Linked DNA regions of Homo sapiens. The protein of the gene in region 1 interacts with the protein of each later gene in a biochemical or structural test. Each region holds a gene or a part of one and is shown on either strand. Other genes may lie near its edges.

Region 1 (3,952 bases):
TGATTGAACCACTGAACTCTAGCCGGGTTCAAGCAATTCTCCAGCCTCAGCCTCCCAAGTAGCTGGGACTAGAGGCATGCGCCACCACGCCCGGCTACTTTCTGTATTTTTAGTAGAGACAGGGTTTCACCATGTTGGCCAGGCTGGTCTGAACTCCTGACCTCAAGTGATACACCTGCCTCGGCCTCCCAAAGTGCTGGGATTACAGGCGTGAGCCACCTTGCCTAGTCCAGTTTTTTAAATGCAAGATTAGGTTGAAAGGATTACAGCCATCCTGTTATTTGGATGGCTGTAATCCTTTCAACCTAATCTTGCATTAAAAAAAAAAAAAAAAAAAAAAAAAAGCCGGGCGCAGTGGCTCCCAGCACTTTGGGAGGCCGAGGCGGGCAGGTCACGAGGTCAGGAGCTCGAGACCATCCTGGCTAACACGGTGAAACCCCGTCTCTACTAAAAATACAAAAAAAAAAAAAAAAAAAAAATTAGCCGGGCATGGTGGCGGGTGCCTGTAGTCCCAGCTACTTGGGAGGCTGAGGCAGGAGAATGGCGTGAACCTGGGAGGTGGAGCTTGCAGTGAGCCAAGATCGTGCCACTGCACTCTAGCCTGGGCTGACAGAGTGAGACTGTCTCAAAAAAAAAAAAAAAGCAAAAAAAAAAAAAAAAAAAAAACCACAAAGGCTGGATGCGAGGTGGCTTTTGCCTGTAATCCCAGCACTTGGGGAGGCCAAGGCAGGCGGATCACTTGAGGTCAAGAGTTCGAGACCAGCCTGGCCAAAATGGTGAAACCCCATCTCTACTAAAAACAGGAAAATTAACCGAGCCTGGTGGCGCACAGTTGTAATCCCAGCTACTCAGGAGCCTGAGGTGAAAGGATCCACTTGAATCTGGGAGGTGAAGGTTGCAGTGAGCCGAGATTTCACCACCGCACCCCAACCTGGGTGACAGAGTGAGACTTGATTAAAAAAACAAAAAGAAAGAAAGAAAATGCCTGGCTAGCCACAGTGGTTCATGCCTGTAGTCCCAGCTACTTGGGAGGCTGAAGTGGGAGGATCACCAGCAGTGATAGAATGAGACTCTATCTCAATTTAAAAAAAAAGTGATAATGAAGAAGATTGATTATTCCAGCCATTCTTCACATACCCAGAGTATGCTTATAGTGGGTATAAGAGATCTCACTACTTAATTTGAACCAACACATGAGGGGGTAAAGATTTAGGAATATAAAAAGTATAAATTAGTATAGAGCAAACTGGAAGTTCCTCAAGAGTATTGAATCTTTGAAATTGTGTAGCTTACAGAAGTCCTGGTGGAATGTCTGTCAGAAGCTATTAGATTGGTGGCAAGAGCGTTCTAAGTGGACAGGTGGATTGTGGAAAGACTAACCCCATCTGTATGCACTCTGTCCTTCTCTTTGCATACTTTAGTTAGCAGTTGGTTAATTTGCATGTGTGGTTTCAGCCATCATGTTGTATTGACTCATTCTGAAAGCTCTGTGAGGATAGGCCACATGTCTGCCCGCCCCCACTGCATCTAGCACTTTATGTGTGATAATCTATTGAAAAATATTTGTCAAATGAATAAAATGGTGAATGTATTCAGCAGACATTTAGTGAGACTTGAGAATGTCCTGTGGGGGTGGAAGTGGGTAGAGGAGTGGTAGGCCTATAAGGATTGATGAGACATAATGTCTGACTTTAAGGAACATAAATCTGGCACTAAATATAAATTTTTGAAACTCCTTAATTCTTAGATTAGCCAATGCAGACAGTAAGTAACTTACTGACCTAAACCAGAATTTTTTTGTAACATAGATTTTAATAAATTTCTTTGTTTTTTGTTTTTTGGTTTTTTTTTTTGAGACAGTCTTGCTGTGTCGCCAGGCTGGAGTGCAGTGGCGCAATCTTGGCTCACTGCAACCTCCGCCTCCCAGGTTCAAGCGATTTTCCTGCCTCAGCCTCCTGAGCAGCTGGGACTACAAGCGCGCGCCACCACGCCCATCTCTAATATTTGTATTTTTAGAGACGGGGTTTCACCCATGTTGGCCAGGATGGTCTCGATCTCTTGACTTTGTGATCCGTCCGCCTCGGCCTCCCAAAGTGCTGGGATTACAGGCGTGAGCCACAGCACCTGGCTGATTTTAATAAATTAGGTGAAATCTTAGTTATGTAACAGACACCCATTCTGCATTCTTTCTCTACTAATTCAGCTGGGAAGCAGGATTGCTTAGGGGTCAGTTTTATAATGTTACTCAGTTTTTTTATTTTATTAAAATTAGGGATTTGATTAAGTGGTGACATGTTGCTTTTCTGAAATTACAGAAGGGCATTTATCTAAAGTGACTGTGACCAAGTAGCAAGATACTTAATTGAGTAGGTCGGTATACTAAAAATAGCTCAACTGACTGTAATGATTCAGGTATGCAAAGATCAGATAATGCAATATATTAGTTAAGGGAACTTTTACTGTATATGGTATAATGGTCTATGGTATATTTCCTTGTAAGTTGTTTCTCTCTCTCTCTTTTTTTAAATGTTAAAGTAATCAAGATGATGCTAACAGTCAGTTACCAGAACTCATACAGGGACCATTTGTGTGGAAACTAAAGCTGCAGAAAATCCAGCAGAATCCTGCGCTACTATTGTAGTTATTTGTAGTTGTTTAGGCAGAAAAATCAAAGACAGGAAGTTAGGAATGTTTGAAGACATTATTCTAGGGTAATGAATTCAGATAAGATGTATTTCACTCATGTTAAAGCTATCCTCTGAAAATAAGACTTGCCTATAGAAGTATCCCCAACCAAAAGCCTATTAGGAACTCCCTAGCCCAGTCAGACAGAATGTGTATTCCAGGGAGAAGGCTGTATCCTGCTTATGTTAGACTGTACTACATACTTCACGTCTTAACTAGATATACCAATTAAGAATAGGCAAAACCTAATCAGTTGTCAGAAGGAAGATATATATGAACAAGAGAGAAAACAACTCCATGGAACTCAGAAGGAGAGTCCCCAAACATGAATTTGGCAGTGATTTTTCAACACTGTCCAGGGAGAACATAAGCCAGCTTTCCACCATCATTTGGACAAATTTTTAGTGATAGGACACATATAATTTATCAGGCTTTATTGTGGTTTCATTTTCTTTTGGTTTAGATTCAATACTCACCAGATAACTTCTCAGATGCCACAGTATGAGGAATAGGGTACCCTGTGTGGTAAGAGGACTATTCCCCCCATTGTAACCAAATAAACTGGCATTTGGCCTATATGGTAATTTTCTTCATAAACTTTATAAAAAATAAATATATATTTTGTTGAGGATACAGGGCTAGTGAAAAATAAAAATATCAATATAACATTAACCTTTTAGAAATTAGTTAGCATAAATTAACCCTTGGAAGCCTAATCAATTCCATGTGTCCAGAAAAAAAAAAAAGGATTTTATGGTGCTGTAGAACTGAGAGTCATATTCAGGAATAATTCATCTCTTGTTGTAGAAGGCAGGGATCATAGTCTTATTCTTATGTACCCAGTGCTTGGCACATGGTTGAAAACTCATTATTGAATTATAGAGATGGCAACTCCAGACCTATAGTGAGAACAACTAGACATTTTATGGCTCTACTCTTAGAATTATTCTGACATCAAAAGAGTAGTTCTGCCATTTCTTTAACTCAGCAGAAATCATTCATTAAGTGATGAAAATAGAAGCTTCTAAACAAACCAGAGCCTTAAAAGGCAAATAAAAGGTATATGCATCTGTTAGAAAAAAAATGGGAGAGCTATGTGGTGTGTTTGAGGACAAAGACAATCTGTTTCATTATTTTTATTTGTAAATAATTTTTAATTTTATTTTGTAGACCTTATTGCAATATGCAAGCAACAAGAATGCATCAGAACATATTGTGTATCTTCTGGAGGTATATCGACTTGCCATCCAAAGCTTTGCCAGTGCAC
Region 2 (3,600 bases), about 120 Mb from region 1:
TTTTAAAAATTTTGTAAAAGTAGGGTCTCACCATATTGCCCAGCTTGGTCTCAAGTTCCTGGGCTCAAGCAATCCTCCTACCTTAGCCTCCCAAAGTTCTGGAATTACAGGTGTGAGCCACCAAGCCCAGCCTATTTATCTTTCTTAAAATAAAAAGTATGGGGAAAATTAAGATTGTGTATTTGATATCTAAAACTATTCCCTGTTCCAAAAAGTATCTTAAAAATAGACTAGAGACCGGGCACAGTGGCCGACGCCTGTAATCCCAGTACTTTGGGAGGCCGAGGTGGGCAGATCACCTGAGGTCAGGAGTTTACAACCAGCCTGACCAACATGGAGAAACCCCGTCTCTACTAAAAATACAAAATTAGCCAGGTGTGGTGGCGCATGCCTGTAATCTCAGCTACTCAGGAGGCTGAGGCAGGAGAATCACTTGAACCCGGGAGGCCGAGGTTGTGAGCCACAATCATGCCATTGCACTCCAATCTGGGCAACAAGAACGCAACTCTGTCTCAAAAAAAAAAGTAGACTAGAAATAGAATCATATCATTTGAAGGCAGAATAAGAAACCTTAGAAGTAATCTAGCCTAAAATTACAAAAATTAGTGCTGTATGCTTGAACACCTCCAGAATTGAGAAGCTTTCTTTGTGTTAAGGTGGTGGTGCATTCAGGTTTTTGGACAATTTAATTGTTTTTCACTGTTATCTTTTCTCACATTTTGCCCTTAAAGGTCACCAAGGAAGAAGGATTGGCCTTGGCCCGAGAATTCAGCTGTCCCTTTTTTGAGACATCTGCTGCATACCGCTACTATATTGATGATGTTTTCCATGCCCTTGTACGGGAGATACGTAGGAAAGAAAAGGAGGCAGTACTGGCCATGGAGAAAAAATCTAAGCCCAAAAACAGTGTATGGAAGAGGCTAAAATCACCATTCCGGAAGAAGAAAGATTCAGTAACTTGAAGAGAAGATGTGAAGTGTTTATCTGTGAACTGCAGTGCTGTATCAAAGCAGTCCAGTAACCTGCAGTACTGAGTATGGTGCTTGCTCTTTCACTTAACTGATAAGAGGGACATGCCTACTAGGAGTTTTTAATGATGTGGTATTTAAAGTATTGTCTCTTAGTTAAGTATGATTTATTAACCCAGTGGAGCACTGTCTGCTTTTAAATTGTCACATTAGAATTTGTTCTACCAATGTTTTGGGTTCTGTTGCGCTATTAATTAATGTAAATTTGTTTATACCCAGGAGAATATGTATACCATGTGTGTTTGACTAAGTTCACAAGGGAAGTTTTTGGCTCTGCACTCCACATTATCCTTTAATTTCAATTTCCTGGGACTATCCCAGAGAAAGACCTCAGTCTCTTCTATTCACACTATGCTTCCTAGAGACAGAACAAAAATCATGTAGGGAAATTGGGGCTAATGAGATCAGTGCCAAATTTCAGCAGATACCTGTGAGGCTGACACCTGTTGCAGACTATGGAGTGGTGAGATTTGGGAAAGTTGGGCTATATGTTTGCAGGGACTTAAAAAGGTAGGTTCAGAACAGTATTCTCAGTACAAGCTTCGCTTTTCTAAGAAGTACACATTTGGCCCAAATTCACCGGGATAAGTGAGAACAGCCAGAAGCATAAAATGTGATGAAGGTTTCTCCTGGGAACCTTATTTTACTCTTCATTTCAGGGTTTTCTTTTTTTTTTTACCTTCAAAGGTAGACATTTTGGGAATCATAACTGTATTACTAAACGTGTTTAATCAAAATTCATAGTTGGATCAGCCATTGCCTTGTACAGGTTTATTTTTTCCCCACAGACGCACACACCAACACATTTATATTCATTGCTTCCTCCCACTTTGTGCTCTGTAAAAGAGCTACAGCTGGCAAGATGTTTTTTCGGCCCTTCATCACTGATTGCATTTTCCATACAGAAGAGACATCAGGGGTGTGGGTAAAATTGTGTGTGTGCCTCCTTGACGTGGACAATCACTAGACTCAGTGCTCTGAGAAAATCTGCTATTTCTGTTGAATGGGTCAGTCTTAAAGCTTTAAAATTCACATAGGTGGAGTTTCCCATCTGAAGATTTCTTTACAAGGACTTTGCTAAGTTCATCTCAGGGTTATCTGAGCCTTGACCAAGTTTATCCTAAGGGAATACCACTTTGCTCCCTGTGCATAGTTTAGGAACTGTAGTCCTAGGAGGAAACAGCTTTAAATATTGGTAGTGAGTTGTCTAAGATCAGGACTGTTTTGATATCTGACCTTGTTATATGCGGAGAGTAAATGCAAAAATGCTAAGAGTAATGCATCATGTATTGAATATTAAGTGTCACTGAAGCAATGTTTGTGTTGACTAGAAACGTAAGATGACTTGTGTAGCACCTCTTTATAAGCACACAGCTCATCTTAATATTTTCCATTTTTATTAGAGGAAGTAGGACAGAGTTGTGTTTTTCTTTATAAACAAATGATAAACTAGCTTTTTTAAAAAGTGACTGTTAGAACTTTTTTAGCTCTGAGTAGTGGTCCCTTTTTAAACTCCTGGAAACATTTTTGTTACCAAATAAATCATGTTTTATGGTACTCAGCCATCCAAAAGTGAAAGACCTAGCATTTGATTCTGTGCAGGACACAAATCTCACAGGAACTATAGCACTTTGGAAAAGCATCAAAGTAGAAAAGAAATACAGTGCAATTCTATTATGAGAATGTTTTACATTTAAACTGGTTTAGCACCTTTTAAGTTTAAAGCCCATAGCTTCTTATTACTAGTGACCTAGGGAATTGTTATTAACATTAAGAGATATATATATATATATATATATATATTTTTTTTTTTTTTTTTTTTTTTTTTTAAATAGAGATGAGGTTTCACTATGTTGCCCAGGCTGATCTCGAACTCCTAGGCTCAAGCAATCCTCCCAATATGCTGGGATTACAGGCATGAGCCACCACCTGGCCCAAGCAAGAAATTGACACTATATAGTTATTTAAGGTAGTCAGGCAGTAGAAACATTGCCAGAAGGATAGAAAGGAATTTGGATTATATATAAGGAAAATAACAAATCGGTGTTTTTAAGACTATCACTGTCATATATTAGATCCTTGTATTAGTCCATCCATTAATATTAGTTCTATTCGTGGTGCTAGGTAGCTTGACAGGTATGATATGCATAAGTCATAGCTCTATTCTTAGTGTCATAAAGTGTAGCTAATTTATAAGCTCTAAGTAATCAGCTTTATCTAATTTGAGGGCATTAAAATTACTGCCTAGAACTTTGAGAAGAGAAAAATTCAGGGATAAGTTGAAAGGCACTGGAACTGTTCATGTCCATACCAGACCGGTAAATTATAAGATCCAGATGTTAGTGTCTAGAATTAGCTGTTTAGAATTCAGAGGGGACATATGTTTTAACTTTGTCATATATTAGCAAGAATTGGTCTACTGTGATGTTTGGGGAGGAGGAGGGGGGGATAATTTTTTTAATGCACTTGTATGTGAAGACAGTTTGTATGACATAATACAAAACTTTTAAACAACTTGGGCTTTCCTTTGCTTCCCTATCAGTGGGTAGAGTTTTTGGAATCATTGCAAAAG

Evidence for each region.
Region 2: the proteins of RLF (region 1) and RIT1 form a complex in vitro, tested with the Homo sapiens proteins (one study listed by BioGRID).

The regions. Positions count from the first base shown.
Region 1 is NC_000001.11:40,185,200-40,189,151, forward strand, and holds part of RLF (zinc finger protein Rlf), read left to right. Parts: intron 1-3,855; coding exon 3,856-3,952. UniProt on the Homo sapiens protein: May be involved in transcriptional regulation.
Region 2 is NC_000001.11:155,897,750-155,901,349, reverse strand, and holds the end of RIT1 (GTP-binding protein Rit1), read left to right. Parts: intron 1-731; coding exon 732-962; 3' UTR 963-3,542; downstream 3,543-3,600.